2 linked regions of the Homo sapiens genome follow. The protein of the gene in region 1 interacts with the protein of each later gene in a pairwise test. Each region holds a gene or a part of one and is shown in the gene's direction. Other genes may lie near its edges.

Region 1 (2,767 bases):
CACAATGTATCTTTTGCATAAATTAAGAAGCATTTATGAAAGGCTTTAGGTTAAAGCTAACTGAACATTTCAAAACTAGGGATAAACGAGCGTCAGTTCTATTTAGGAAGTGTGAATATCTCTGAAAAGAGTCCTTAGGGTGTGGGTCAGGAAGAACCTAGTGGAGTGTGAGTCAGGAAGAACCTAGTGGGGTTCCAAGTGGACGAACCAGCAAGGAGCTCACTTGGAGCTGGTGTGCTTGGTTACGGCTTTGGTGCTCTCGGACACAGCATGCGTGACAGGCGAACAGCCGTCTGGATCTCCCTGGAGGTGATGGTCGAACGCTTGTTGTAACGCGCCAGGCGGGAAGCCTCGCCCGCAATACGCTCGAAGATGGCATAACGAAGGTGTTCAAGATCCCCATTGCTTTGGACGAGATGCCGGTGTTGGTGGACCTGCTTCAGCACCTTGTACAAGTACACGGAGCAGCTCTCCTTGCGGCTGCGCTTTCGCTTCTTGCCTTAGTAATAGTCTTCTTGGAACCCTTTTTCGGGGCTGTGGCCGACTTGGTGGGGTCAGGCGTGTTGTAGTTTAACTGCAGAAAGGGTACAAGGAATAGGAAAAAGCGGCCGGGCGCGGCGGCGCACGCCTGTAATTCCAGTACTTTGGGAGGCGGAGGCGGGCGGATCACTTGAGGTCAGGAGTTCGAGAGCAGCCTGAACAACATGGCGAAACCATGACTCTTCAAACAAATGTAAAAAATTAGCTGGGCGCGTGATGCACTCCTGTAACCCCAGCTACTGGGGAGGCTCAGGGAGGAGGATCGCTTCGGCCAGGAAGGCGGAGGTTGCGGTGAGCCACGATCGCGCCACTGCTCTCCAACCTGGGCGGCAAAGCCAGACCCTGTCTCAAGGGAAAAAAAAAAAAAAAAAAAAAAAAAAAGTCGCCGGGCGCTGTGGCTCACGCCTTTAATCCCAGCATTTTGGGAGGTTGAGGCAGGTGGCTCACCTGAGCTCAGGGGTTTGAGACCAGGATGACCAATATGGTGAAACCCTGTCTCTACTAAAAAATACAAAAATTAGCCGGGCTATGGTGGCTGACGCTTGTAATCTCAGCTACTCAGGAGGCCGAGGCAGGAGAATCACTTGAACCCAGGAGCGGACGTTGCAGCGACCGGAGATCGTACCACCGCACTCCAGCCCGGGCGAGAGGGAGACCCTGTCTTAAAAAAACAAAAAAAGAAGAAGAAGAAAAAGCTGTGTGTTGTAACGTCCTGTTCACGAATTCTTATGCAAATGAGGTGATTAATAAAATAGTGTGTAGGACTGGTGGCGATTCTAGATGACGTCATATACACGTTTGTCCAATCCAAAGAAGCATGTTTCATAACAGCGATTCCATTGGTTGAAATAAAACTGTAATTTGAGCCAATGGCACAGCTTTATTTTCGCGCCCAGTATTGACTATAAGTAGTGGAGCTCTGGTGAACTTCTCTCGGCTGTTCTCAGTTCCTCCATTTATCGTTTCTTCGTCATGTCGGGACGCGGCAAGCAGGGAGGCAAAGCTCGCGCCAAAGCCAAGACCCGCTCTTCTCGTGCCGGTCTCCAGTTCCCCGTGGGCCGAGTGCACCGACTGCTCCGCAAGGGCAACTATGCTGAGCGGGTCGGGGCCGGCGCGCCGGTGTACCTGGCGGCGGTGCTGGAGTACCTGACTGCCGAGATCCTGGAGCTGGCGGGCAACGCCGCCCGCGACAACAAGAAGACCCGCATTATCCCGCGCCACTTGCAGCTGGCCATCCGCAACGACGAGGAGCTCAACAAGCTGCTGGGCAAAGTAACCATCGCTCAGGGTGGTGTCCTGCCCAACATCCAGGCTGTGCTACTGCCCAAGAAGACCGAGAGTCACCACAAGGCCAAAGGCAAATAATGTCTCCATAGAATCACTTTCCAATACAACGGCTCTTTTCAGAGCCACCTACTATTTCTGCGGGAGAGCTGGGCCACTGGTTAAACATTTGGAACGTTTGTTATGAAAAGATAAAGCATTTTTCATCTAGAGCTTAGGAATGACTTTTAGGAAAAACCTTACAGGATTCAGGTGACATGTTTAAGTCAGAATGTGAACTAGTTATTTAATGTAGGGCTTACAAGAATGTTCGCTGTGTTTATTCATCTCGTGTTATATGAACTAGAACCAATAAAAAAAAATCCAGAGCCAGGCTCAGTGGCTCACGCCTGTAATCCCAGCACTTTTGGAAGCTGAGGCGGGAAGATCGCTGGAGCTCATGAATTCGAGATCTGCCTGGGCATCATAGCGGATACAAAAATTAGCCGACCGGGGTGGTGCACGCCTTTAGTCCTAGCACTTCACAGAGGCTGAAGTGGGACGATCCCTTGAGCCGGGGAGGCTGAGGCTGTAGTGAGCCGAGACCACGCCACTGCACGCCAGCCTGGGTGACAGCGAGAACCTGACTTGAGGAAAAAAAAATAATCCAGTACAGAATGACACGGTCATATCAAATTGGCATGTAATAGAGACCCCATCTTGAAACTTGCTACTATATTGTCTTGTGCGTTGATAGCATATTATATTAATGCCGAACACATTAGTGACGCCGAAGTAGCTGGTGCCTAAATGGCTTAAACGCGGAAAAACCACATACAGATGATGGAACAAAAACTGGCCAATCAGATTATAGAGCGGGCTTTTTAAAATATAAGAAGCTTCTTTGTAGCTAGGCGTCTGACAAAAAGCTTGACACCAACTTAACAAAAACCAACGGCTGGAA
Region 2 (3,819 bases), on another chromosome or scaffold:
CCTGTTGGCATAGTAAGTGATACAGGTTGGACATTAAGAGCACTGGGCTGGAGGTTGAATGCCTCTGCCTCTGCCACTCCCTTGTTATGTGACCTATCTATGTTTTGATTAACTTCTCAAAGCTTAAGTTTTCTTATCTGCAAAATGAGGACAACAAGAACACTAACTCTATGGCTGTGGTAAGAATAAATGTAATAGTTAAGCACAATGCCTGGCTCATAGGAAATCCTCAGTAAACCTTAGCTATTATAATTGTTATCTCCCAAGGCTATCCAGTGAACAAACATAGCACCTAGAGTTTGACGGAGCCTTGAGCTGATGCTGACACTAGCTGAGAGAAGATCCATGGCAGCTCTAGTCGAGGCCCTGCCCACCAGTGCTAAAACAACTTATATGTAATTTGTCAATGACATCCAATGACCTTCCTTCTTCCCCGATTCTTCGTACCATCATCTGGACCACTCTAAGGGGTACTAGCTGCCCCACCTTCCTCCTTTTAGAGGAGGCTGGCTGAGCCTCTGCAACCCCAAGAAGATGGTGTCACATATAGCAGCTAGGACATGAGCTTTGCAGTGGCAGACCTGGGTTCACATCCCAGCTCCACCACTTTCTCACAAGTGAGCTGGGGCCAGGTGATTAACCTTCCAAGCCTTAGGTTTCCTTTTCAGCAAAATAGAAACGATGATAGTACCTATAATATCTGGAGTTAAGGTGAGGATGAAATGAGACAACACATCTGAAGGGCATAGGCACAGAGTAAGTGCTCAATGGCAAATGACCCATCATCTTTAAGGGAGGGAAATCTCAACCATGTGATGCTGAGTTCCCTGTTTGTACCGTAGGTACATCGAGAAGTCTGCAGAGGAGCTGGACGAGGAAGTAGAGTATGACATGGACGAGGAGGACTACATCTGGCTGGATATCATGAATGAGCGTCGGAAGACAGAGGGTGTAAGTCCCATCCCGCAGGAGATCTTTGAGTACCTAATGGACCGACTGGAGAAGGAGTCGTACTTTGAGAGTCATAATAAAGGCGACCCTAATGCGCTAGTGGACGAGGATGCTGTTTGCTGTATCTGCAATGATGGTGAGTGCCAGAACAGCAATGTCATCCTCTTCTGTGACATGTGCAACCTGGCCGTGCACCAGGAGTGCTACGGTGTCCCCTATATCCCTGAGGGCCAGTGGCTGTGCCGCCGTTGCCTGCAGTCACCCTCTCGTGCTGTGGATTGTGCCCTGTGCCCCAACAAGGGCGGTGCCTTCAAGCAGACAGATGACGGGCGCTGGGCCCATGTGGTGTGTGCCTTGTGGATCCCTGAGGTCTGCTTCGCCAACACGGTCTTCCTAGAGCCTATTGACAGCATTGAGCACATCCCACCAGCTCGCTGGAAGCTCACCTGCTACATTTGCAAACAACGGGGCTCAGGGGCCTGCATCCAGTGCCACAAGGCCAACTGTTACACAGCTTTCCATGTGACATGCGCCCAGCAGGCTGGCCTTTACATGAAGATGGAGCCTGTGCGGGAGACAGGCGCCAACGGCACCTCTTTCAGTGTCCGCAAGACAGCCTACTGCGACATCCACACGCCTCCAGGTTCAGCACGCCGACTGCCTGCCCTGTCCCACAGCGAGGGTGAGGAGGATGAAGATGAGGAGGAGGATGAGGGTAAGGGCTGGAGCTCAGAGAAAGTCAAGAAGGCCAAGGCCAAGTCCCGGATCAAAATGAAGAAGGCACGGAAGATCCTGGCAGAGAAGCGGGCAGCAGCACCTGTGGTGTCAGTGCCCTGCATCCCACCACACAGGTATGTGGGGAGCCGGTGGACAGGCAGATGAGGGAGAAAGGAGCCTCCAGGAGAGGAGCTGGCAGCCTCCTGAGTGGAATGGCAGGGCTGGGCTATCTTCCCAGGAGCTGCATAGAAGTTAAAAAGAACATATTTTCAAAACAGATAGTTGTCTTTAGCAGGTCACCTGACTTTCACATTAAGAGCCAGAAATGTCAGCTTTTATCTGGCATAGCTAACAGGCGTTTTGGAACTGCCCTTCATTTTGATGGTGTGGTTTGTTAAGTTGGGATGGAAGAGGATGGAACTGCCACTGGCAGCAATGGAAAAAATGGTCTGAATATGAAGAAACAAATAGAATGAAAAGCGGGGAAGGGGAAGCTCAAGAAGTTGTGAAGTGGTTACTGCTGCTCATTTGGGCTGTGATGGCCAGGGATTTTTTTAGTTCTCTTGTGCCGTTTATTTGATTTACTATATATTTCTGCTGTACAGTTGTACTTCATTTTAAAACCTTCAAAGGCTCAGTCTCAGTGGGGCTCCCAGGGTCAAATAGTACTCTGGGCTGCAGTGACTAGAGCAGTCTTAGGGGCAGAAGTCCCTGATTGCTGGTGTACAGGGTTAGGGATCTGGTTTAGTGCTGGGAGCTTGGTTTCCTGTCTGCCACGGTACCACTGATGGCACCACTCTTTCTTCCTTGCCTTAAGTCCAGAGTCCCAGGCCTTTTGGACAAGAGATCCTCTCCCTTCATCCCCATTCAGGAACTTTCACTGGCCAGAGACCCTTGCTCTGCTTAAGAGAATCAGGGCCCAACAAGTTTTACTCTTTGTTTCCTGCCTCCCAGGCTTAGTAAAATCACCAACCGCCTGACCATCCAAAGGAAGAGCCAGTTCATGCAGAGGCTGCACAGCTACTGGACACTGAAGCGGCAGTCACGGAATGGGGTCCCATTGCTACGTCGCCTGCAGACACACCTGCAATCTCAGAGGAACTGTGACCAAGTTGGGGTACTGTGTCCAGTTCCCTGTGGGCTCTGGGAACTAGCGCCAGGGGGACGAAAACCAAAATTTGCAACTGTAGTTTCCAGTGTCAGAGGGCTTAGACTCTTTCCTCCTTTAAGCTAGCCCTCAAACCAGGATCAGCATGGAATGTTCAATGAAAAGATGTTGTTCCTATGTGTTTATGTATTCATTCAACAAACACATACCAAGCATTTATTCTGCCAGGCCTTGGGGACACACAGATTGAGGCACTACCAATAAATTACTGTGCTCCCTCTTTTGGCTTGACCTGAGTTTCCTGGGCTCTCTTCTCCCTGTTGACCTTTCCTCTGGCTTTCTAATCATCCTCTGATCTTCGTTTTGCCTCTACAGAGAGATTCTGAGGATAAGAACTGGGCCCTTAAAGAACAGCTCAAGTCCTGGCAGCGGCTCCGGCATGACTTGGAGCGAGCTCGGCTGCTCGTGGAATTGATCCGCAAGCGGGAAAAACTCAAAAGGGAGACGGTGAGTGCTCCTGGGCCAGCCCTATTTTATAAAAGAAAAAACAAAAAATTAGCCAGGCATGGTGGCAGGCGCCTGTAGTCCCAGCTACTCGGGAGGCTGAGGCAGGAGAATGGCGTGAACCTGGGAGGAGGGGTTTGCAGTGAGCCAAGATCGTGCCACTGTACTCCAGCCTGGGCGACAGAGCGAGACTCCGTCTCAAAAAAAAAAAAAAAAAAAAGACCCAGGAGAAGGAATAGCGTGTGTACCCCAGCCAGATAGCAGCAGGGCTGACGCTGGAGTCAGGTCTCCTGGTGCTCGGTGTGCTTTTAGTTCTGCTGGAAGCAGAATGTCACAGGAGCGTATGAACAGAATCCTCAGTTATGTGACATAGGTAGCTGGTGCTGGTAGTTCAAGAAAGGGGGAAGCCAGAATTGTTGGTGCAAGTTTCCCTGGGTGGAGCCTCATAGAAGGTAGACCTGTATGAGTACACCCAGCTGTGAGGGTGGGAAAGAAGGCGGGTTCCCAGGCCAGCTGGGACCATATCCTCAGACCTCTTT

What was found.
Region 2: the proteins of H2AC16 (region 1) and BRPF1 interact in binary tests that used the Homo sapiens proteins (3 or more experiments, as listed by UniProt).

The regions. Positions count from the first base shown.
Region 1 is NC_000006.12:27,863,843-27,866,609, forward strand, and holds H2AC16 (histone H2A type 1), read left to right. Parts: upstream 1-1,474; 5' UTR 1,475-1,512; coding exon 1,513-1,905; 3' UTR 1,906-1,956; downstream 1,957-2,767. UniProt on the Homo sapiens protein: Core component of nucleosome. Nucleosomes wrap and compact DNA into chromatin, limiting DNA accessibility to the cellular machineries which require DNA as a template.
Region 2 is NC_000003.12:9,738,157-9,741,975, forward strand, and holds part of BRPF1 (peregrin), read left to right. Parts: intron 1-842; coding exon 843-1,802; intron 1,803-2,622; coding exon 2,623-2,785; intron 2,786-3,151; coding exon 3,152-3,283; intron 3,284-3,819. UniProt on the Homo sapiens protein: Scaffold subunit of various histone acetyltransferase (HAT) complexes, such as the MOZ/MORF and HBO1 complexes, which have a histone H3 acetyltransferase activity.